7 linked regions of the Homo sapiens genome follow. The protein of the gene in region 2 purifies or fractionates together with the protein of the main gene of each other region. This does not show direct contact. Each region holds a gene or a part of one and is shown on either strand. Other genes may lie near its edges.

The links.
Region 1: the proteins of APIP (region 2) and POF1B purify together in Homo sapiens (affinity purification with mass spectrometry; one large-scale study listed by BioGRID and IntAct). This does not show direct contact.
Region 3: the proteins of APIP (region 2) and FASTKD2 purify together in Homo sapiens (affinity purification with mass spectrometry; 3 studies listed by BioGRID and IntAct, with this or other methods). This does not show direct contact.
Region 4: the proteins of APIP (region 2) and SERPINA12 purify together in Homo sapiens (affinity purification with mass spectrometry; one large-scale study listed by BioGRID and IntAct). This does not show direct contact.
Region 5: the proteins of APIP (region 2) and LYG2 purify together in Homo sapiens (affinity purification with mass spectrometry; 3 studies listed by BioGRID and IntAct, with this or other methods). This does not show direct contact.
Region 6: the proteins of APIP (region 2) and SDR9C7 purify together in Homo sapiens (affinity purification with mass spectrometry; one large-scale study listed by BioGRID and IntAct). This does not show direct contact.
Region 7: the proteins of APIP (region 2) and HEPHL1 purify together in Homo sapiens (affinity purification with mass spectrometry; 3 studies listed by BioGRID and IntAct, with this or other methods). This does not show direct contact.

Annotation. Positions count from the first base shown.
Region 1 is NC_000023.11:85,278,666-85,282,165, reverse strand, and holds part of POF1B (protein POF1B), read left to right. Parts: exon of another isoform or gene 1-51; intron 52-2,739; coding exon 2,740-2,745; 3' UTR 2,746-3,500. UniProt on the Homo sapiens protein: Plays a key role in the organization of epithelial monolayers by regulating the actin cytoskeleton. May be involved in ovary development.
Region 2 is NC_000011.10:34,906,380-34,909,879, forward strand, and holds part of APIP (methylthioribulose-1-phosphate dehydratase), read right to left. Parts: intron 1-3,500. UniProt on the Homo sapiens protein: Catalyzes the dehydration of methylthioribulose-1-phosphate (MTRu-1-P) into 2,3-diketo-5-methylthiopentyl-1-phosphate (DK-MTP-1-P).
Region 3 is NC_000002.12:206,793,106-206,796,605, reverse strand, and holds the end of FASTKD2 (FAST kinase domain-containing protein 2, mitochondrial), read right to left. Parts: 3' UTR 417-3,500; downstream 1-416. UniProt on the Homo sapiens protein: Plays an important role in assembly of the mitochondrial large ribosomal subunit.
Region 4 is NC_000014.9:94,486,779-94,489,624, forward strand, and holds the end of SERPINA12 (serpin A12 precursor), read right to left. Parts: coding exon 2,842-2,846; intron 717-2,841; coding exon 525-716; 3' UTR 501-524; downstream 1-500. UniProt on the Homo sapiens protein: Adipokine that modulates insulin action by specifically inhibiting its target protease KLK7 in white adipose tissues.
Region 5 is NC_000002.12:99,245,667-99,249,166, reverse strand, and holds part of LYG2 (lysozyme g-like protein 2 precursor), read left to right. Parts: intron 1-2,346; coding exon 2,347-2,487; intron 2,488-3,500. UniProt on the Homo sapiens protein: May act as a potent antibacterial protein that may play a role in the innate immunity.
Region 6 is NC_000012.12:56,924,409-56,927,908, forward strand, and holds part of SDR9C7 (short-chain dehydrogenase/reductase family 9C member 7), read right to left. Parts: intron 1-3,500. UniProt on the Homo sapiens protein: Plays a crucial role in the formation of the epidermal permeability barrier.
Region 7 is NC_000011.10:94,024,354-94,027,853, reverse strand, and holds part of HEPHL1 (ferroxidase HEPHL1 precursor), read right to left. Parts: intron 1-3,500. UniProt on the Homo sapiens protein: Is a copper-binding glycoprotein with ferroxidase activity. It oxidizes Fe(2+) to Fe(3+) without releasing radical oxygen species. May be involved in the regulation of intracellular iron content.

The sequences.
Region 1 (3,500 bases), on a different chromosome or scaffold from region 2:
ATATATGTACAGCCTTTTAAAATTGAGGTAAAATATCAAATGAACTAAAAACTTTGAGTATTTTTTTCTTTTGAGATTTTCTGTTTCCATTATTGATATACAGTGGGAATTAACAAATTTTGGAAAGATTCATACATGTGGCAATATAATTGATTATTTAAGCTATAATATAAATATAATTTTTGCCCCTCAAAAGGAAGAAGATTAACATTAGTGATATGCTAATTTTATTTATTTTCTTGCCTAGCTCGGTAGTTATTGAATGGGTTCCATTAAAATTTTCCAAAACAGTTTCCCTTTTTCTAAAGCAGGTAGCAAATATCATAGACAATTATGAAGGCAACTGGAAAATGGAGAAGAGGCATGTTTCAATAGAATTTGTCTTGCAATCTTGCATGTGGTACTTATTCCTGTGGATTTTATATATATATATATTATATATATTAGGATTTAGAAAGAAGAGATGTTTCTAGCTTCCTCACTAGACTGTAACATCCTCCAGCCTTAAATCCCACAGTTATAGTGAGGTTGCTGAAGAGTACTTTAAACATCATATACTCCAATATTTACTCTACCTTCTACAACATCCTCCAAAATGGCCAGGTGACATGGACCTTAGCATCTTTCTAAGTGGTCCAATCCATTGCTAAGGGGACTGATTATTGAAACCTTCTTATAAAGGACTGAGAGCTACTTCCCTAAAACTTTTACATATTGCTCTATTAACTTTTAAAGTAATGATCATCAAATAGGGGATATATAGTTGTCCCTCAATATCCATGAGAGATTGGTTCCAGGATCCCCTACAGATATCAAAATCTGTAGATGCTCAAGTCCCTTATCGGCATAATATTTGCATATAACCTATGCACATCTTACTGTATACTTTAAGTCATTTCTAGCTTACAATAACTAATTCAATGTAAATTCTAAGTACGTGTCATACCGTCTTGTTTAGGAGGTAATAACAGTAAAAAAAAAAAAAAGTCTGTACATGTTCAGTACAGAAATGATTTTTTTCCTGAATATTTTCAACCCATCATTGGTGGGGAACCCATGAATACCAAGGGCCAACTATATATTCCCTAGCACAGTTGCTCTCTACAGCAACAATTTTGTACCTTACGGGACATTTAGCAATGTCTAGAGACATTTTTGGTTTTCACAACCAGAGGGGTGGGTGTTATTGGCATCTAGTGGTTAGAGAACTAGGATGCTTCTGAACATACTACGATGTGCAGGACAGTCTCCCATAACAAAGAATTATCCAGCCCCTAATAAGTAGTGTTGAGGTTGAAAAACTCTGCTAACAGAATGCTCTTGGGTTTTTTTCCTAATTATATACTCCTACACTGGTGCAAGAGATTCTAATAGTAAGCCACTGGTAGGGATCATAGGAATGTGTGATATCCTTCTGGTGAAATGAACAGAGAAATGTTTGAGGATTCTAGTTCTCAAATCATACAGATCTGACTTAAAACATTGTGAAAATGACAGCCTTTGACTTCTTATGATAAAATTATCTACCTGTCAAACTACTGAGGTATAAAAGTAGGCAAAACTAAATCTATGGCTATTAAATGAAGAAATGGTTATCCTTGTGGGATGGATACTGATTAAAAGGAAGCATAAGGAGAGATTCAAGGTCTTAATAATGTTCTGTTTCTTTATCTGGGAGATGGTTACATATGCATGTTCGGTTTGGGAAAATTCATTTATTTGAATACTTATAATATGTCCATTTCTTTCTACATGTTTATTGTACTTCAGTAAAAGCCTTAAAATGCTTAAGTGTACCGTGGTGAGCAATAGACAAATATACAAATATCAATCCAGTATTCTGCAGAACCTTTTGAAAAATATTTAAAAATTATGCTTCAGATGTATAGTTAATAAAATTAAACATCTAAACATCTGTTAAATAACTTCTAGAAACATCTTTTGGTTGAACAAGCTCAAATATTTGAGTCAACAAAAAAATTCAAAAAGTTTCTTTAGAGCTGAAGCCCTTCTTTAACTACAATCCAGCCATCAATCTTTTAAGTATGGTTGTTATCATCAATGAAAACAACCAATGTTTAGTAATCCCAAAGTAAAAATAACTGCATTTAAACTCTGAAATGTTGTTTTTGTTAGGTCATTAGTTAGCTGAAAATTACTTACTACTAATTATTAACCCATAGAATTTAAAATTGGCCACTCAAAGATAATTTGATGCCCAAAGTTAAGACTGAGAAGCAATTGCTGCCACTAACCCTAACCACATGTATCCCAGAGGTGGCAATATGAAGACCTGCCAAATAAAGTTTCTACAGAATAGTAGCCACTACTTCTCTCTCCATTAAAAATGTGCAGCAGTAAAAATCAAAATTGATATTTGAAGAATCTATAGATACTGATAGCAAGGTCAGAATATATTTAAATGCATTCACAGATGAAAATCCATATTTATTAAGAGACAATTGGACATATTTAAACTCTAAATATTACTAAGAAGGAAATCTACTTAATTGTCCTTCACTCTTGCTTAAAGTCATTTGAAACATACCATGAGTAAAGTAAGAAAGACAAATCATTGTTTCATTGAATATATATATATAAAAGAGTGCCACAAAAGTGCAATACATGTCCTTTGGTTTTATACATACCAATTTAAATAATTTTCCATAACTTTGCATATAGTAACAATGACTTTAATTATGAACCAGTTGTAAGATAACCTTTTTTTTTCTTTTCTAGCCATGAATGGATCCACTTTAAAGTATTACAACTCAAAGCCGTTTTTTTTTTGTGTGTGTGTCTCTGCATTAGTACTTTGTTATTTTTCCATCACTAAAGGCCAATCAGAATTTGGAACCATGCTGCTACCCAAGAAATCTAATGGAATGAATTAGTTCTGTAGATGACAATTTCTTCACCCATTTATGAGACCTAAATCTTTTCCATAACACTCATGTATTCAGTATAACAACATACTAACTGAAAGAGGGACCTGATTGTTTAAAGTTTGATTGCAGACACTGTAGAACATAACTCATTATGTTTCAGATAAGGTAACTCCTAGATATCAAACTAATTTGTTGGGGTAGAGATTTTACAAGTCATGCCATTAGAAGATTTTCTCTGATATTATATGTGCAGTTCAGTTACAAGATGAAATCATGTTTTTTTAACAAAAGAGATAAAATACAATTGAAGCAAAAAATAACAGCTAGTATATAATATATACAGTCTGTATTTGCTTTTCACAGTAGGCCTGATGACTAAAAGATATGCTTTATTACACGCTATTTTCACCTCTTGAAAGTCAAAGGTGATGATTAATTTCATTTAGCAGGGAAGTGGAATAATATCTTTTGAAATAACTAAGTCCACTAAATTATACAGTATGCTATTCTGGTTCTAAGTACATATTAGTCCCTTGGCAAATCTGTTCTTTCAAAGCATACCTTCCCCAAATGAGCCTACCTACTTCTTAAAAAACATATAACACAATGTGG
Region 2 (3,500 bases):
GGAGATTTAACTGAAAGAGCAGACTGGGGAGGGCATGCACATGACAATCCCATCTTAGAAAAACCATGAATGGGAAATTCTATAGCCAGAGGTCTAGTCTGGATTACGGGCTTCCCTCTCCTTGAAAGATCAGTACTTACTATTTCTATTATGATGCAACAAGGGTGGAAGGCAACTGTAGGTACCATAGAGGCACGACAGCAATCTACAGACTCTTTCACCACAGTAGCAGCACAGAATAGACGGGGCTTAGACGTCCTCACAGCTGAAGTAGGAGGTACCTGTGCACTTATAAATGAAACATGCTGCTTCTGGATTAACACCTCTAGTAAAGCAGAGGAAAATCTACAGCTACCTAAAGATCAAATCAAAATCATTAAGAGGCTACAAGAACACGCAGGCTTCAGCCCCGGGTGGCTACAATTCCTCTTTAATGAATTCTAGTCTTCTTTATGGAATTGGTTAGCTCCTTTATTAAGTCCACTCCTACTTATATGTCTTGTATTAATATTTGGACCTTGCATACTCAATACTATAACTCAAATCATTTCCTCTTGCCTAGAAGCAATCAATCCAAATGGTGCTGCAAACCGAACCACACGTGGACGTGCCATTCTTCCGAGGACCCTTAGATCAACCCCAGGAGGAGCCCTAGCTGTTGTTCCCCACTTGATGTCCCTTTTCGGCAGGAAGTAGCCAGAAAGAGTTCTTGCCCAAAACCCCCTAACAGCAGTTAGGGTGACATCTCCTCAGGAAGGGAATATTACAGGAGTTATTAAGGAAAAACTATGTTGGTATTTCTTATATCCGTCCTTAAGAAATCTAGCCCAAATTACCTATGCCTGTATAATTTGCTACTTCCTTATTTAGGGATATAAGTGATATTTTAACTACATTTTAAAGTACAGCTAATGGGAAGACTCCTGCAGTCTTCCAACCCTTAAAACCATCAATTTGCACAGCAAATAGCACACATTACAGAAAATGGTCTTTTATTACAGGTCTCCCCTTTCTCTTTTGTCTTTTCCAGTGCTGCGATATTACAGCAATTAGCCAGCTTCAAGCTAAAGCAATAACAATGACAAGGCAGCTGCTGTTAATACATTTTCAATCCTTGAGACCCATAAAATTAAAATTTCAAAGAGATTATCACTTAGCAGGCACCAACAGAGATATACTTGGTGAAAATGAAGTCATTTAAACTGTCCAGAAGAAAGTAACTACCAGAACATATATTTTAACAAGAATTGACAAGAAGGAAAGGTTCAATTGGTATCTAGTTCTCTCCTGAATGTCAATATTACTTTCCTATTATTGTTAGATCTGGTTTTCAGTTATAATAATAATTTTGAAATGTGTATCTAAAGATTGATTACAATCAACTATTTATAGTAGAGGTTCTACAGTGAGGAGGAAACACATTTAACAGCATTTTGTATATATCAAAATCATTAATGTCTAACAAGTTTTGATTTGGTATTAATTTTTCCAATTTTTCAATCTAGTTATTTTAAGGAAATCAGCCTGGCTTGTCTCCGAGATACTACTCACAGCCAACAATGGCTCTAATCCCCTCCCCCATCTTTTCTTTCAACTTAAGCAAATATAGGCATATATTCCTCAGATACAGGTTTTCCTGGAAGACTCTCATACAAGTATAAAATAACATGCATGAGATTAGTAACTCATCAATAAATGGGGAAACTAGTAAGATGTTACAACTGATTCAAAAGGAGAATTCAAAACATACATAATATAAGTAACGAGGAATCCTGACTTAGCAAAACTGGATACTGTCCACAGGTTAACAATAAAATGAATCTCCATTGAACACAACTTGCATTTCCATGAACAACAATCACCTGCGTTAACTGCCAGGATTCCACAACTGAGAGTTGTAAAATAGCATAATAATAACTCCAAGATACCCAGTAAATACTCTTTTTGTTTGTTTCAAAGTCTTTCACTTATTTTCCTGACACTGGGCTCAGGAAGGGACTGAATGCAGGCACAGTAAAGATGAGTCATACTTTCTCTCTGTCCTTGGTCTTCGTTTCATTCTGCACACTTGTTGCACTTGTCTCTCTATGCATCTTGGTTTTCTTTACTTGAATGCCCCAGCTCTCTCTTCTACCTTCACCACACTTAAAAACCCTCCTCCTCCTCATCAGTCAAGTGTTGACTAGAAATCAGAAGACATGGAGCCTGTTTTTAGCTTGGACCCCACTAGCTGTGTGCCCTAAGGCAAGTCAGTGATACTTTCTGGGCATCAGTCTCCTTCTATTAATAATCTGGATCAGTGATCTCCAGACTTCTGAATTAACACCAGTAGTCTGTTCTATGTTGGTATTTCTTATATCTGTCTTAATGAAGGACGGTGGGAGTATATGCTGGGTAGGTGAAGAGGAGAAAGGGCATTTCAGTCAGAAAGAATGCTTAGTAGCTGGAAGTGGTTATAAATTAGGTTCTGCAGGATGGAGGTAAAAGGGAGGCTGAGTCTAAAGGGTCTTCTATGCTATGCACAGGGCTTTGACCTATATTTCATGGATGATTGAAAACCACCAAAGAGTTTGAAACGTAAGATATGTGATAAGAGTCTGTTTTGGAAACATTTGCACAGTGTCAGTAAACGAAAGAGGCTGAAAGGCAGTGGTCAAGAAAGCAAAAGCCCAGAAGAGCAGGGAGGCTGCTGAAAGAGTTTAAAAAGGAAGCTGGAAGGAAGGGACTGTGAAGATGCATTTGGAAGATGAAGGACTTGGGGTGAGAAAACTGAAGGAGACAAACGAAGGCTTCAAAGACTCCCAAGTGTGTGGTCAGCTGAGTAGCTGAGTGGATGATATCGTTCCCTGGGATGTGGGTCAGAAACATTACCATGTGCTGAACACTCTTCTAGGCCCTGGGAATTCAGCTATAAACTGGACCTGAATTCCCAGGGCCTGACCTAAAAGAATTCACACTCTGGGGAGGAGTTTTTAAAAAGTAAACAGAATACATAAATAAACTGTAAAAAGTGCCAAGCAGGAAAGAAACATGGGACTTGGAGAAAAACGGCAGGGATCAACTTTGATTAACGCAGTCAAGGAAGGCCTCTCTGAGCAGGTGGCATTTAATCTAGGACCTAAAAGACATGAACTAAGCCAGTGTGTGATGAATGAGTACGTGTGTGTGTGCAAGGTTTTGTGTTGAGAGAGGCAAGTACTCCAGGCAGAGGAAACAGCAGGTGTGAAGGCTCTGAAGTGAGCAAGTACTTCACAGGCGGAAGATCAGTTGGCTAGAGCAGAGTGAGGAAGTGCTGAGGGTGGCGGAAGATAAATTTGTAGGGGCAAGATGTGGAAGGGCTTGAAAGCTGATGACAACAGTCTTACCAGAAAGGAAATGATTCCTAATAGGAGACACGGGGAGAAGGAGAGAAATAATTATAGAAGGTGAGAGGGCTTGGAGATCCTGAGCTCTAGTGGAGGAACTGGGCTTCTTGCCTTTCATGAAATGAGAGAAGCTGG
Region 3 (3,500 bases), on a different chromosome or scaffold from region 2:
AACCAGCCAGCAGTATACACAGGTGTTCCTAGTGGGTCTTAATAACATTAAGTGTCTGTAACCCTGAGTGAAATTCTTTTTAAATTCTTTTTTCTTTTTTGAGACATGGTTTCACTCTGATATCCAGGTTGGAGTGCGGTGGCACAATCTTGGCCCACTGCAGCTTCGACCTCCTAGGCTCAGGCGATCCTCCCACCCCAGCTTTCTGAGTAGTTGGGACCACAGGTGCATGCCACCACACCCAGTTAATTTTTCTATTTTTTGTACAGGTGGGGTTTTGCCATGTTGCCAGGCTGGTCTCAAACTCCTGGGCTCAAACGATCCTTCTGCCTTGGCTTCCCAAAGTGCTGGGATTACAGGTGTGAGCCACTGTGCCCGGCCCTGAGGGAAATTCTTTAAAAGCAAAATTCACAAACTTTTAAAGCAAAGTATCCAATTTTTATTGATTCTATAACATATATATGTGCATATATTGTAGTATCTTTATCAATCAGGATTTACTTGCTGATAACAGAAACCACTGCAACCTAGTTTAGACACAATGTGCTTTTGTTAGTTTCTGGCCATGCACAGAAGCCTCCTGCTTACAAGATGAATGGAAAGGCTGAAGGAGCAGCCTTTAGTCTGACTTCCAGGAATGACTCTCAGAACACTATCACATAACTGGCTGTCCAGAAGAGATGCTATCTCTGCTTACAGCCTGGAAGCTGGAAAGTCATGAAGATGCTGCCCATTGCTGGCTCCAGAGCCACATTATTTTAGCCACAATCCCCACCAGCAAAATGGATGCTCCTCGTCCTGCCACACCACACCCTGGGGTCTCTGTTATTGCTCTTCTAGAAAAATAAAATGCTCTGTGGCTGTTTGTTGGCAGAAACATTACCTCTATCTCATTTGGCCTTCCCAGTTTCAAGTAGGTACATCTGCATAGAGGAAGCTAAGTCACATTTGGAATTCAAGCTGAAAGGGGCTCTGGGAAATGTAGGCTTCAGCTTTTTTTGGATCCACCAGTGAGTCACGGCACACCTGTGTGCACAAATGGGTTACAAGTGTGTTAAGAGATAGCCATCTTGGACCGGGGGTGGTGGCTCACGCCTATAATCCCAGCACTTTGGAAGGCCAAAGGCGGGCAGATCGCAAGGTCAGGAGATCGAGACCATCCTGGCTAACATGGTGAAACCCTGTTTCTGCTAAAAATACAAAAATTAGCCGGGCATGGAGGTGGGCACCTGTAGTCCCAGCTACTCGGGAGGCTGAGGCAGGAGAATGGCTTGAACCCAGGAGGCGGAGCTTGCAGTGAGCTGAGATCACGCCACAGCACTCCAGCCTGGGCGACAGACCACGACTCCGTCTCAGGAAAAAAAAAGAGATAGCCATCTCCTGCCTTCTGGGCAGCCACTGCCCTCCTGGCCAGGAAGCTCCACACCTAGGTCTCCCTACAAGTCAGCGCAAAACAGGGTGGAGTCTGATGGTCCACCTCTCAGGCCCTGTGAATGAAGAGTATGAGAGAGATCTGTCCTTTGCTGCCTGGCTGTGATGTGCTGTGTGAAGACAAGGCTGTGCCACGTCCCTCGCCAGCTACCTAAGTGGCTTGCTGCTGAGTGAGCCACTGACCATCATAACTGCTGGGTAATTTCATGGAAAAGTGCAGTCAGTTGGGATTTGAGGAATGCCAGCTCCTCATAGGTAGTTCCAAGTAGATGCCCCAAATCTCTATCTTACAGAAACTTCTATTTGCTTAGAGATGTCCAAGCCAGTTGCAGGGTGACTACCCTCACAACACATGACATTCTATAAATTGGAATGTCATTGTTATTTGGAAATACTTGATATGAATAGTTCAATTGCATTTGAGGTCCATGTGTATTATCACAAAAAAAATACCATCACATTTTGTCAATGACAAGAAGAGTTGTTAGGCTATGTATATATGAAATTTTCAATTTTTGAATGTTTTTTAAAAGTTCTAAACTGTTTAATCAGCTTTGTGTAAAGAAAGTTTCTATTCAGTGGTAACTACTGAGAATTCGGAGAGCTGGTAAATGTCTCAATCAAGAATTGAGCTGGGCACAGTAGCCTGTACCTATAATCAGTCCTATCTACTTGAGAAGCTGAGGCAGGAGGATCCCTTGAGCCCAGGAGTTTGAAGCTAGCCTGGGTAACATAGCAGGGCCCCATCTTTAAAAATCTAAAAATTAAAATTAAAAAATAATAAAAAAGAATTGCATGTAGCTATTTCAAGAATACAATTTTATATCTTGTATCTAGAGCAAGATCAACCTTTTCATTAGGGATTCTGAAAAAAATATTTGGATATCTCACACAAAATGAGCATTTAATATATTTCCTAATTTTTTTCTATGTGTGCCATAGATCAGTGGTTGTTTAGGGGACAGAGAAAAAAGCAAAGACAGGAACCTTTTAGAGGTGATAGATATATTCATTATCTTGATTGTGGTTTCACAGATGTGTGTGTGTGTGTATGTACGTCAAAACTGACCTAACGGTACACTTTAAATATATGCAGTTTACTGTATGTCAATTATACTATAATAAAGCTATTTTTTAAATTATGGGAGAAGAAAACCCCACAAAGTACATTCCAGAAAGGTATTAATTTACAGTCTACCAACAGCTTATGCAAGTGCTTGCCTCATTATACCTTCATCAGCACTGTAATTCTTAAAAGAAAAAAAACTGCTAATTTGAAAGGCAAAACCATCTCTTCTGTTTCAATGTGCATGTCTTTACAAGTAGACTGAACTTTTTTCATGTTCATCAGCTCTTTGCCCATTTTTCTTTCATTGACACAAAGCAATGAAGAATGCTAACACTAGAATGCTAGTAAAAGAGGGATGCCTTTTTATCTGCCAGGTTAACTAGTACAAACTGAAAATTACTACCCTAAAAGGTGGTCATAAATATTCACAAATTTGTCAAATCCTTTGAAGAGGAGTCATAATTAGACACTCAAAACTGATGCACACTCAACATTTAAAGACAAAACCTTAGTTCCTTTAATAACAGAATATCTGCATCTTGTTCTGAAGCTTATAAGGTTAAATCACTTGGCCAAGTATACAAAACTAGAGGTTGTCCAATCTGGAACCAGAAGCCTGATCTCCTGGGACACAAGCTGAAGAGCAGGTGAGGATGAAATGATGTGGAACCAATGGCATAGCTGAGACTTCAGGAAAGGAAAATTCTTTGAGCCTTATCTTCCTCGTCCATAAAATGAGGGAAGTAACAATTAAATAATCACTAAATTTCCTTTCAGCTCTAACCTTTTCTAAATGCAAGCTGGATAAATTGATACAACCTGGCAGCTGTTGTCATATTGCTATAGTTTTTGTATTTTTTTTTTTTTTTTTTTTTTTTTTTTTTTGAGACAGAGTCTCGCTCTGTGGTCAGGCTGGAGTGCAGCAGGACCATCTTGGCTCACTGCAATCTCCACCTCCCGGGTTCAAGCGATTCCCCTGCCTCAGCCTCCCCAGTAGCTG
Region 4 (2,846 bases), on a different chromosome or scaffold from region 2:
GGACCGACTTTGTTAAAGCACTGAACTAGCTTCCTTGGAGCCCCAAAGGGAGGGGCGGGACCTTCACTTCAGAAATAAGAAGACAGACTCAGAGAGGGTTTGTGGCTTTCCCAAAGATACCTCATTCCAGGATTTGAACCCCAGTCTCTCACTCGAGACCCCAGGTACTTGCTGTGGCCCATACCTTCCCCAAATTATCCACCAACAGCCAGTCAACCTGGGGCAGGGCTGTGGGGGAGAAACATTTGTTTACTAAATCACAGAGTCCCTCTGCCCGCTGGAGGGGAGAGGAGAATGCCACCAAGTGGGCGGGGGTGGGGCATTGCATCCCAGCATTTGAATGGGCAGGGAGGAAATGGGGCACAGGACTTCTAGAACTTGCAGTTTTGCTCATTCGGGCTGTCTAGGGAGGTGGTGACAGGGAGAGACTAAACTGAAATGTGCCTGTGACTTCCATCTCAGGAAGATGGAACATGTTCAACCCCAAGCCATGTTCGGGGTCTGTGGCAAGCAGGAATTCTCCTTTATTTTCCAATAGGGTTAACAATCTTTCCCAGGAAGAGCACGGAAGGTATTTTCTCGCTGTAAATCAGCAGCAGATAGGGTTTGTCTATCTTGACGACGAGTGGTGTCTCCATGGGCAGAGTCTGTGCTCCGGTGCCAGCGGCCCCTTCCGTACCCCTCTCATCCATCTTCAGCTCAGCCTTGTGCACAGCCTACGGAAGCCAAGGGCAAAGTCAAGGTCTGCCAAGCTCCTTGGCGACCACAGTGGGCCGGAGGCCCAGAGAGGATCAGAGAGGAAGACCACTTGGCCCAAGCCATCCAGCACAGCAGTAACTTGGTTTACTCCAGGGTTCCTGGCTCTTTCGCCATTAATGCTGGAGAATATTCGACAAGCAGATGCCGTGTGAAGGAAAAGATGGTGCAGGGGGAGCATCAGTTACGGGAGTCGGTGGGGGGAGAGATGGAGTGGGGTTTGCTTCTCTTTCTCATGGGTTACAGGGAAGCATCAACCATAGCCGTGGCAGAAAGGTCTACTGGGCTGTAGCTGGGTGAAAGTGAGGTGGTGGTACCCCCACCCTGAAGCCTCCAGCACCTCCTTTCATCCACCTGGTGGATGGTTAAGAGGGAGAAGGATTCTGGATTAGCTCTTTGAGATGACTTGCATCCCAAATCCACTCCAAAGGCATCAACGTCTGTAAACAGGTGATCAGTACTGGGAAACTAACGGGCATGTGTGAAATCCTGGCACATTTCTTGCTAGCCTACAAAATTCTCACAATTTTACTTGCAGAAAACAGGACAGTATCCTGTGTTACAATCACAGCTATCAGCAAACGTAACTACAGAAAGAAATGAGCCATTAAACTCAACAAGACCTTCAGAGCTGGTGTTAAATGTTTGTGGGAAGTCTGTGGCAGGAAAGCTCAAAAGTGAGAAAATTCTAGTAACTATGTTTCTTATGTCAACGTGAAAAATACAGTGGAATCTGTGCCATCTGATTCAGAGCAGCGGGCTCAGCTTGGCAAGCTGGATCCTTCCCAGACTGGCTTGAACCTCCCACTTTATCTCCACTAAGCACCCAATCCCCACCACCCACTACTCCATGATATCCAAAAACCCCCAGCCTTGGCCACACTGCTGCACCCATCCCCGCACCCATCTCTGCTTGTTGAAATCTTTCCCCTCCTTCAATGCCTTTTTAACCCCAAAGTAGGGTTGCCAGGTGAAATACAGGACATCCACTGAAATTTGAATTCAAGATAAACAATGAATATGTTTTAGTGTAAGTGTGTCCCGTGAAATATTCTGAACATACTGGCACTAAAAATATTATTCATCATTTATCTAAAATTCAAATTTAATTGGGTATCCTGTATGAAATCTGCTAAATCCGGTGACTCTACCTATATGGTGCTCTCTTCTTGCCCCAGACAGTCAGGTGCTCACCTTTGCCAGGGGCCACAGGCCCCTTTGCTTGGTCATCTCTTCCTATGCAGCATATGCTTATGCCAACTCATATGAAACATGTGGCCTTGGGCGCGGTGGCTCACGCCTGTAATCCCAGCACTTTGGGAGGCCAAGGTGGGTGGATGACCTGAGGTCAGGAGTTTGAGACCAGCCTGGCCAACATGGTGAAACCCTGTCTCTACTAAAAATACAAAAAAATTAGCCGGGCATGGTGGCGGGCGCCTGTAATCCCAGCTACTCGGGAGGCTGAGGCAGGAGAATTGCTTGAACCTGGGAGGTGGAGGTTGCAGTGAGCTGAGATCGCACCACTGTACTCCAGCCTGGGTGACAGTGCAAGACTCCTTCAAAAAACAAAATAAAAGAAAGAAAGGAAGGAAGGAAGGAAGAGAGAGAGAGAGAGAGAAAGAAAGAAAGAAAGAAAAAAAGAGAGAGAGAGACAGAGAAAGAAAAAGAAAGAAAGAGAGAAAGAGAGAGAGAAAGAGGAAAGAAAGAGAGAGAGAAAGAGAGAAAGAAAGAGAAAGAAAGAAAGAAAAGAAAGAAAGAAAGACGGATGTGGCCTTTGAGAGAGGGTCTGGGTTAGACCTAGACCAGTTCTAGGCCTGATAACTGTTCCAGGCCTTGATCAACGTTTGCTACATTGAATTGATTTCCAAAATAGCAGCAGTTTTAAAGACTGGAAGCATGAGGCTGGGGGAGGTTATGTGGTTTGCCCAGGATCACGGGGTTGGTAAGGGGCACAGCTGCATTCATGCCCGCCCCGACTGGTGGGTGGAGTCTCGGCTCTGACAGCCACTGTGACCCTGGCTCTGGCCCCGGCTGGGGGAAGGCCCCTGTGCTGCAGGGAGTGGAGTCCAGGCTAGGCAGGCTTACCTCGC
Region 5 (3,500 bases), on a different chromosome or scaffold from region 2:
TTCTAGGCATAAGCCACAACATCCAGCCCTAAGTACTGTCTTATAACAAATATTTGGACTCTTAAGGTACAAGTTAACAGTCCTTGAAACCGTTAGAACAAACTTTTCAACATTACAGAAAATAACTTTGTATCTCCTTTAGCAAAAGCTCTGCCTCTCCTGTAACAGGTAGACTTGGACAGAAATTCACTTTTTAATGACAGAACAAAAAGACAAGAATAGATTTGACTTAAATTATTTTGGCAAATTCAATTTTTACTTCTAATTTTATTAAATATACATAGGAACTCAACTTCACAGTAAATGATATATAATAAGAATATATTTAAATTGTTATGGTGCCCTTCTTTCTTATCTTTCTAAACAAAGGCAAATTGGTTTTTTTTGAATTTTATTTATTTATTTTTATTTTATTTTATTTTATTTTATTATTATTATACTTTAAGTTTTAGGGTACATGTGCACAATGTGCAGGTTAGTTACATATGTATACATGTGCCATGCTGGTGTGCTGCACCCATTAACTCGTCATTTAGCATTAGGTATATCTCCTAATGCTATCCCTCCCCCCTCCCTCCACCCCACAACAGTCCCCAGAGTGTGATGTTCCCCTTCCTGTGTCCATGTGTTCTCATTGTTCAATTCCCACCTATGAGTGAGAACATGTGGTGTTTGGTTTTTTGTCCTTGGTGATAGTTTACTGAGAATGATGATTTCCAATTTCATCCATGTCCCTACAAAGGACATGAAGTCATCATTTTTTATGGCTGCATAGTATTCCATGGTGTATATGTGCCACATTTTCTTAATCCAGTCTATCATTGTTGGACATTTGGGTTGGTTCCAAGTTTTTGCTATTGTGAATAGTGCCGCAATAAACATACGTGTGCATGTGTCTTTATAGCAGCATGATTTATAGTCCTTTGGGTATATACCCAGTAATGGGATGGCAGGGTCAAATGGTATTTCTAGTTCTAGATCCCTGAGGAATCGCCACACTGACTTCCACAATGGTTGAACTAGTTTACAGTCCCACCAACAGTGTAAAAGTGTTCCTATTTCTCCACATCCTCTCCAGCACCTGTTGTTGCCTGACTTTTTAATGATTGCCATTCTAACTGGTGTGAGATGGTATCTCATTGTGGTTTTGATTTGCATTTTTCTGATAGCCAGTGATGGTGAGCATTTTTTCATGTGTTTTTTGGCTGCATAAATGTCTTCTTTTGAGAAGTGTCTGTTCATGTACTTCGCCCACTTTTTGATGGGGTTGTTTGTTTTTTTCTTGTAAATTTGTTTGAGTTCATTGTAGATTCTGGATATTAGCCCTTTGTCAGATGAGTAGGTTGCGAAAATTTTCTCCCATTTTGTAGGTTGCCTGTTCACTCTGATGGTAGTTTCTTTTGCTGTGCAGAAGCTCTTTAGTTTAATTAGACCCCATTTGTCAATTTTGGCTTAAGAAAGGCAAATTGTTAATCTAGATGTTCACATCTCCAGAGGCATTTGTGTCAGAAATGTTTTAAAATTCCTCTCAAAACAATAGACACTGGGGACTGTAAAAGGAAGGAGGGAGGGAGGAAGGTAGGGAGGCAAGGGTTGAAAACTACACATCAGGTACTGTGTTCACTATTTGGGTGAAGGATCAATAGAAGGCCAATCCTCAGCATCACACAATATGCCCACGTAACAAACCTGCACATGTACCCCCTGAATCTTAAAAAAAAAAAAAAAACTCTCAAGTTTCCTGCTTAAAAACCTGTCAGTTTTAATTCTGACATAGAGCATGGTATGACTACAGTGCCTGTAATCCCAGCACTTTGGGAGGCCAAGGAGAGAGGATCGCTTGAGCACAGGAGTTTGAGACTAGCTTGGGCAACATAGCAAAACCCCATCTCTACAAAAAGAGAAAATAAGCCAGTCCTGGTGATATGCACCTGTGGTTCCAGCTACTCAGGAGGCTGGGGTGGGAGGATAGTTTGAGCCCAGGTGTTGGTGCCTGCAGCGAGCTATGATCATGCCACTGCACTCCAGCCTGGACAACAGAGCAAGACCTTGTCTCTTAAAAAAAGGAAAAAAAAAGACTGCACATGTATTTAGGATCTATAAGAGATGAATTTCATAATATTTTGCATAGAGTTTTCAGATTACGTCCTGTGTTAATACAAAACAAAACAAAAGATCGGAGCAGAGTGGGCATGGGGAACTTCTGTCTGAGGAACAAATAATGGCAACAAGAGAGTTGGGGAGTTCTGTCTGTGGCCTTCTGCCTTTGGTTTAGTGATGTTTATTGCAGCAACCCAAGTAATATCTTCTCAGAGGATTCATGTGAGTTACACTTCTGCCTCCTAGGCACTTCCAGGGGCTCATACCCCTTCAGTCACTCAATGAAGCCTCACCTACATCCACGCCTGTACCACGGCTGCTATGGGGACATCATGACCATGAAGACCTCTGGGGCCACTTGTGATGCAAACAGTGTGATGAACTGCGGTAAGTGAAAAGCAGAGCAAATGACTGGCTTCCCCCTTTCATCGTTTTCAGATTCTTTCTTAGGAAGTCACTTAATTTTGAAAAGGTATAATCATCATTATGACAATAGTATCAAAATTAAAAATGAGCAAAAACCACAATCCTGACCAATCTAACAACCAGCTTCTTTTCATTTTCCACCCCCATTCTTTCCAAACTTTGTCCAGCTGTGTTTATTTCCATGTATTGAAACTACTGCTTGAATAAATATTAGACTCTGGCTTTGTTTTTTGGGTGGTGCTGCTGTGTTTGCTTCATGTTACACATGACCATTTGAAGCAATACTGTTCCAAAGTCGTCTTCATCACGTTATCCTGGTTTTAGAGTGTCGGAGCTGGCAGCAACCACAAGGTCACATCAGACCCCAACCCCTCAAATTTACAAATCAGAGCCCAAAGACTCAGCAAGGAGGGGAATACTTCCCAATAGAACAGAACCAACTAGTGGCGGAGCCAGGCTAAAACATGCATTGGCTAACTCCTAGTACAACAGGCTTCCCAGTGCACTAGTGTGGCAGAATTTTTTTTGTGTGTATGACAGAGTCTTGCTTTGTCACCCAGGCTGGAGTGCGATGGCATGATCTCGGCTCACTACAATCTCCACCTCCCAGGTTCAAGCGATTCTCCTGCCTCAGTCTCCTGAGTAGCTGGGGTTACAGGTGCCTGCCACCAAGTCCAGCTAATTTTTGTATTTTTAGTAGAGATGGGGTTTCACCATGTTGGCCAGGCTAGTCTTGAGCTCCTGACCTCAAGTGATCTGTCCACCTCGGCCTCCCAAAGTGCTGGGATTACAGGCATGAGCAATTTGAAGGAGAAACAGAGCAGAAGCGACACCTGTTGGGGGTTGTGGATCTGTTTGTTTCTGCAGTCAGAGATCAAAAGGATGTCTTAGAATGGTTGTCCCAAGTCATTAGCAGTGATCAGAGGCTGTGGCTAACTTAGCAAATTTTTAAAAATGGTTTTCTTCTGAAGTAG
Region 6 (3,500 bases), on a different chromosome or scaffold from region 2:
ACAGAATGACACGCTGTCTCAAAATAAATAAATAAATAAATAAATAAACAAATAGTCTTATTTATCTTTCTGAATTCAACAATTGTGCATTGAAGTCCTACTATTGCATTAGACTGGTGATGAGAAGAACTGTGCACATTCTCCTTATAACTGTGCCGCTTATTAGTTATATGACTTTGAGCTTAAACTTTTATTGTCTATAAAATGGAGATAATACTATCTTTCCTAAAGTTTGGGCATAGTGGCTCAGGCCTGTAATCCCAGTACTTTGGGATGCCAAGCCAGGCCAATCACCTGAGGTCAGGAGTTTGAGACCAGCCTGGCCAACATGGTGACACCTTGTCTCTACTAAAAATACAAAAATTAGGTGAGCGTGGTGGCGCGTGCCTATAATCGCAGCTACTCAGGAGGCTGAGGCATGACAATCACTTGAACTCAGGAGTGGGAGGTTGCAGTGACCCAAGATCGCGCCACTGCATTCCAGCCTGGGCAACAGAGTGAGACTCCATCTCAAAAAATATCTGTCCTGGAGAATAACAAAGATGATTAACAGCAGGGTAGACACTGGGGGAGTACAGAAGAGCAAACATGATGGGAAAACAGCCCTTTTTTTTTTCTTCTATGTACTTCCTAGAGTTCCCACATTTAAACAAAAACATGCAGGAGAAAATATTATTTAAAAATAGTAATACTGCCCCTACCTCAGTCATAAGGCCACTGTCACTCAAATAATCTAAGGCATAGACAAGCACCTCGTGGGGCCCTCACAAATGTGAGGAGTTGTTCTGTTTGCATTGACCCACAGGGGTGGAGATGGGGACAGAGCACCCAAATAGTACAAGTCTGCCAAAGTTCATGACATAAATGGGAGAAGGGCCACACCACACACCCACCAGGCCCTCATCTGCATCCTCACCCCAGGACAGGGGGATTCATGCTTCATTGAGAGCCCTGAGGACTCCAGGGAAAATGATGCTTCAAAGTCAGACTGCCCTGATAAGGTATGAAAACTTGAAAATGGAGAGGAAGCCAAAGCTGCCCTGACTTTGAGAATGGTCCAGGCAGGCAAGGAATTCACCCGCTTGGGGCCAGGACCCTTGTGGGTGGTTGGTGAGAATGGGGCAGCATCACTTCAGTCCCCTTCACCCCAGACTCCGAGAAACTCCATTTTCTGTTTCCTGGAAAGAAAACTGATGCAGGGGAAAAGCCAAACTATATTTTGGGATCTCAACAAGAGCCACACTAACTCAAAGCCAGACTGTCCATAAAGCAGTAATGTCTTAGGAAGCCACACCCTGACCTCTGACCGTAGAGCTGGCACAGAGGCCACCAGCAGCAGGGCTGAGGGTCGAAGGAATCGTTCAGGATGCCCAGGAGGCTCTCTCTGCCCCCTCGGCGCCAGGGAAAGCTTTGTGGGCTGAGGATGTGGAGCAAGCTGACATGGTGAGATGGGCTGGGGACTGGGTTCTGAGAGGTGGGGAGGGCTTGCACAGGCAGTGGGGTGGGAGAAGTTACCCCAGACATGGGGAATGGTATGAGGCACTTGCTTTCATTGTTTTCTCAAATAGATATTAGCTGCCATTCAGTGCTGGGCACCCTGCTAGGCATGGAGTAGGATGGGAGACGGAAGGACCCATCCAGCTTTGTCACTCTCCTTCACAGTGAGGAAGGACATAGGCTTTGGAGCTGGGCACCTGGGAAAATGTTTTTGTTATTGGGAGAATTAAGCAGGACAAAATCTATAAAGTATCAGGCCTGGTCCTAGGGGTTACAAGCCAGGGGCCTGTTTGGTCAGTCACAGCAACTGGCTGAGTTTGTACCCAGCGATGCTCTAGGACTACTCCTAAATATCTCTTCTGTCTGTCACATAGCCACCCCCCACCACCAGAACCATCAGGACTTACAACTTCATGTCTTTATCGTTCCTTCACTGGGTTTCTGCAGTAGTCCCCCAGGTGGACTTTTTATCCTTCCCACGGTGACACAAATCTGATCCTTCATTTCAGAGCCATTTACAAGGCTCTCTAATGCCTTTAGGATAAGAGCCATGCTCCCTACTATAGCAATCAAAGCATTTCATGATCTGACTCCTAATCTCTCCCCTCCTCAATCATCACCCACAGCACTCCTGCCAGACTATAATGGCAATGGCAAAGGTTTGTTCAGCTCTTACTGTAGCAGAGCTGAGTACTTTGCATTTCTGTTTAATTCTCCTAACAATCCATGAGAGAGGAATTGTACTTTATAAATGGATAAACAAGTTTGGAGAGCTATACAACATGATTAGAGGGACTGCTGGAATACAAGCCTGAATCTGCACTGCCTCCAAAAGCATACAATGCTATGTCAGGTCACTAAAACGTTGCTCACACCCTTCCTCTTGTGTGAAACATCCGCCATCTCTTTCCCTTTTGGTGTACTCCTATTCATCCTTCAAAACTCACTAAGGCATTAACTGTCACCTCTGTAAGGCTTCTGTGACAGCAGAATGAAGTCTGCATTGCTGCTTTGTTTTGTATGCATGTCCATTATAGCAAGATTCTTCATGTGGTGGTGTATTTGCTTTCACATCTTCCCTGCTAGTTTCCTGGAGAGTGTCTCATCTCTGAATCCCAATAAACACTGGGCAACTGAAGCAAAAATTCTAGTATAACCACTTGGGAAAACGTTTATCTAAATGTAGTTGACCACTGCCTGAAAATTTTCCTCTGAAATTATGGTGTGGACTACAGGTGAATTGGCCTAAGATATTTTATAAACCCAATCCTTACTATTCTTTAGTACAATACTAGCTTTTGGACAAGGTTTTCGGAGGAGTTTGCCTTTATACATATTCTTTCATGGACCACACTAAAGATGCTACAAGCTCTCTTCACCCTGAGTGCTTACTTAGAAAATGACTTTGTGAGGTTTCCAGACACTGGCTGAACCCATTTCACCCCAGCCTCCAAGCAGCTCCACAAATAATTTGAACTACTCTTTGCTAAGAATGATCACACAGAGGATAAATATTCTTCCCCACACATGCTAACATCTTCTCTCCTTGTTCCCAACAGCTGCAGATTTCCCTCTGGGGACCTATGCCTCCCCCACACTGTGTCCATTGGTCTGGGCAGAGCACACAGCCCAGCCTGAGCCAATCACACCTTCACATTCCCCTGGGCGCAGTGATTGGTTTAGGGTTGGGTGCATCTTGTGGTCCCCCATGACGCGGTCACCATAAGGTCCTCCAAGTCGGAGTGTACATTAGGACTTTTGGGAGAGGTACTGGAAATAACTCTCCTATTTTCCCAGCAGACCTCACCCTAGGTGGAGGTGAAGAGAGGCTGCAGCAATGTGGCTCCCACAGGGGAGAGAGCTTAGAGACTGGAGTCAGTGCAAAAGAAGCAGAGCCAAGAAATGGGTGGAACCAGGTCCTAGCAACATCATTTGCAGTCTGGGTCAGGTTGTACCTGAAGCTTATCTTGCTCAACTTTTTAGTCAGGTGAGGCAAGAAATTC
Region 7 (3,500 bases), about 59 Mb from region 2:
TGCTTCTATATACATTCTTTCACTCTGGGTCCCTGGCACCACCTATGTCTTGGGTCCTTCCTTTTCACTCTTCATTTCCACAGAAGCCCTTCATATACAAGGTGTGTTCAAAACAAATGGCATGATGAGGGGGAATGAAAATGAGCTTGAATCCCAACTCTCTCACTTGCTGGTTGTGAAATGGGGAAGAGACTTAACCTCTCTGAACCAGTTTCCTCTGCTGTAAAGCAGTGACCATGGTAGAGCTATCATAAGGATTCAATGAGAAGAGGTGTAGAGCCACACACACAGCAACTGGGAGAGTGGTGCTGAATCAATGACAGTTATGATTATTTCTGGTAAAGCGTAAAGCTTTGTTAGAAAAGAGGAAAATGTGACCAGCCAAGGTCTTTCCCCCAGGGCTCCTGCTCTCCAAAGAACCCCGTGAGACGGCAGAGCTACCACGAGAGCTGATCAAGTGCTCTCAAGTGGCAGGCACTGTGTCTGAGTATGTGCAGATCCTAAGTCCCAAAGATAACTCCGCAGTCCTCATCCACAGAAACTTATTGGAAAAATGGGTCTTTGCAGATGTGATTAAGTTAAGGATCTTGAGATGGGGAGATCATCCTGGATTAGCTGGGTGGGCCCTAAACACCATCAAAAGCATCCTTATAAGTAAGAGGCAAAGATAGGCTAGACACACAGAGAGAAGACGACGATATGAAAATGGAGGCAGAGATCAGAGTGATGCAGCCACAGCCAAGGAATGCTGGCAGATACCAGAACCTGGAAGAGTCAAGGAATGGCCCCTCCCTTAGAACCTCCAGAGGCATTGTGGCCCTGACAACACATGCAGTTCAGACATCTGGCCTCCAAAACTGGGGGAGAATAAATTGCTGTTGTTTGAAGCCACCTAGTTTGTAACTTGTTACAGCAGCCACAGAAAACTGATACACCCTCAAAGCAAGTACTGTCACTATCCCTATTTTACTGATGAGAAAACTGAGGCAAAGAGAGATTGAATTACTTGCCCATAAAGTGGGGCAAGAATTCTAAATGTGACAGTTGATGCCAGAGCCCCATACTTTACCAGCAAACTGGACTGCCTTGGCATCTCCCTAAGACCAAGGCTGGGCTACACTTGGCTGGAGAAATCCTCCCGATGCCACCTGATCTCCCTCCCAGAGACAGAAGATTGGTCACCCCACTTCATGGTGTGCTAACCTTTTAAAGCAATGCCTGGAGCATAGTAAATACTCAGTGACACTTAGCTAACTTATTATACTGTCAATGAGTTATCTTTCAGATCCTGCTAACCAGGCCTTGGGGGTCCATCATATGGAGGTGGGAAAAGCAAGATGGGGACTAAGAGGATGCCTGTGAATCATGGAAAACAGGAGAGAACTGAGGTAGGGGAGGGGAGCAGGGACTGCCAGCTGCCTTGCAATATTCATGCTCCCCTTCTTTCTTAGTGTCAGAGGTAAATTCTATCTTTATTCAGGCAGAAAAGTACACAGCTGAAACGTTATATTTTTTCAAGTCCTCTTTGTGGCTATGAGTATCCAATGAGATTTAAGTAAAATTGGTTGGGTAGGGTTTCAATGAGAACCCTTTGAAAGGCTGATGCAGCAAAAATTGTTCTGCTTCTACCTTTTGCCTTTCTCTCTTTCTTCCTGGAATGTAGACACGATGGCTGGAGATCCAACAGCAATCTTGTGACCATGAATGTGCTTGAGGAGGGAAACCACAAAGGGTTTAAAGCACATAGGCTAAGGATGGTGGATCAGAAATACAGAAAGCCCCTGATATCTTGTTATACCATCTATCCCACCAGCCTTGGACTGCCCACTTCTGGATTCTTCTACAAATGAATACAAAATCCTAATTTGTTAAAGACATTATACTCCAGTCTCTAGTGGCAGCCAGAAACAATCACTTACTGATATAGGGTAGAACAGCAGTTCCCAGAGATTCATATGGCATCAGTCCAAACAAAATATTTTTGGTGCTGATAAGACAGAAGTTGAGATTTGAAAGTTACCATTTGTTTAGACCATGCACTTACCAGATGATATTCTTTTCTTTATTTCAAAGCTCACAAAAACCTCTGTCTCCTCCCTGCTTCCCCTCAGTTGGTCCTTCTTTCAGATAGATGTGTGAGTTCTCTCTCACACCTATCCTAGGGCCTGCTTCTTAGAATACTCAAAGCCCCTTGCCATACACTGGGCTGATGCAGTGATGTGGCTGGGTCAACTAACAGACTCTACAAAAATGGGGTTTGAGCAGTGGCTAGCCTCACTTATGTTCAAGCGCAGTTCCACCCATGAGTTAGCGTCCATGAAAACCCTGCATTTCACTGGGAAGAAAAAGGCTGAATGTGTGTTGATGGCCTAATGAGGTCTATGGTGAGAACTGTGGCTTTAAATAAGATGACCCCACCCTACTTCCATTAAGGATCAGGCTTTACCACCAAACACACACCTTAATTAAGGACTTTATGAGCCTGAGCAGGACTGGTATAAATAGATCAAAATACTGACACCATCCCCAGGCAACTCAAAGGAGCCCAGTGTCCCCATTTACTCCAAGGAGGAGGAGAAGTATATTTATCTGGAGAAAGTATTTCTAAATAGAATCTAACTCCTAAATCCTATACTTTCTAGGAAACATTAGTGATTATAGACTCAATTATATTTTTGAACCCTATAATCAAGCATAGGTACCAAGCATAAAAGTTAATTTGCACCATCTGAGGGCTATAGAGTCTCAGCAAAATGATTTCAATTCATTTTCGATCTCGTCCTTGTGCATAAGGATGTGCCTAACTTTGGTTTCCAAATGTTTTCACATTACTGAAACTTTGGCACCCACCATCTTGTTCCCCAGATTTTTGCCCATTCCCCTTATTCAAAGATAAAACAACCAGAACAACTCAGTTGATAAGGTGATTAGCTTTTACTTCAATGATTTTGAATGCCTGCCCTGTACTGGATCCTCCATAGGATATTGTCAATGACAAAGTTCCGTGCAGGGAAGGGGGATTATTGAATATACGCCAAAACTTCTTATCTATCATCAGGGTGTTTTACTGCAGTTGCAGACATGACTAATGTACATCAAGCAATTAGAGGGCAATGCAGAGGGAAGAAAATGCAGTGTCCAAGTTCATGATAAAGACCCCAAGCTCCATGAGTGGTTAGGAAGGAAACAGATCAGTACAAGCCAGGGTCATGGGGGAAAGCTTCATGTATGAAGTGAGGAATTGGAGATAATTCTTAAAGGACAGGGGAAAAAATGGAGAAAGAAAAATAAAGACTACTTCAAAAGTTGTCACATATGCCCACGATCAGTCCCAGGTCTTCTCCAACTCTAATTTCTAGGACTGAACATTTGCAAATCATCTCTCTCCTTTCTTTCACCATTGCAAAAATCTTTCTAGAACTGGCAAGTCAGGAAAGATATTTTTCATTCAGTTTCAAAATTATTTCTAATGCTTTGGCATTACACTTCTCAAGTGACTC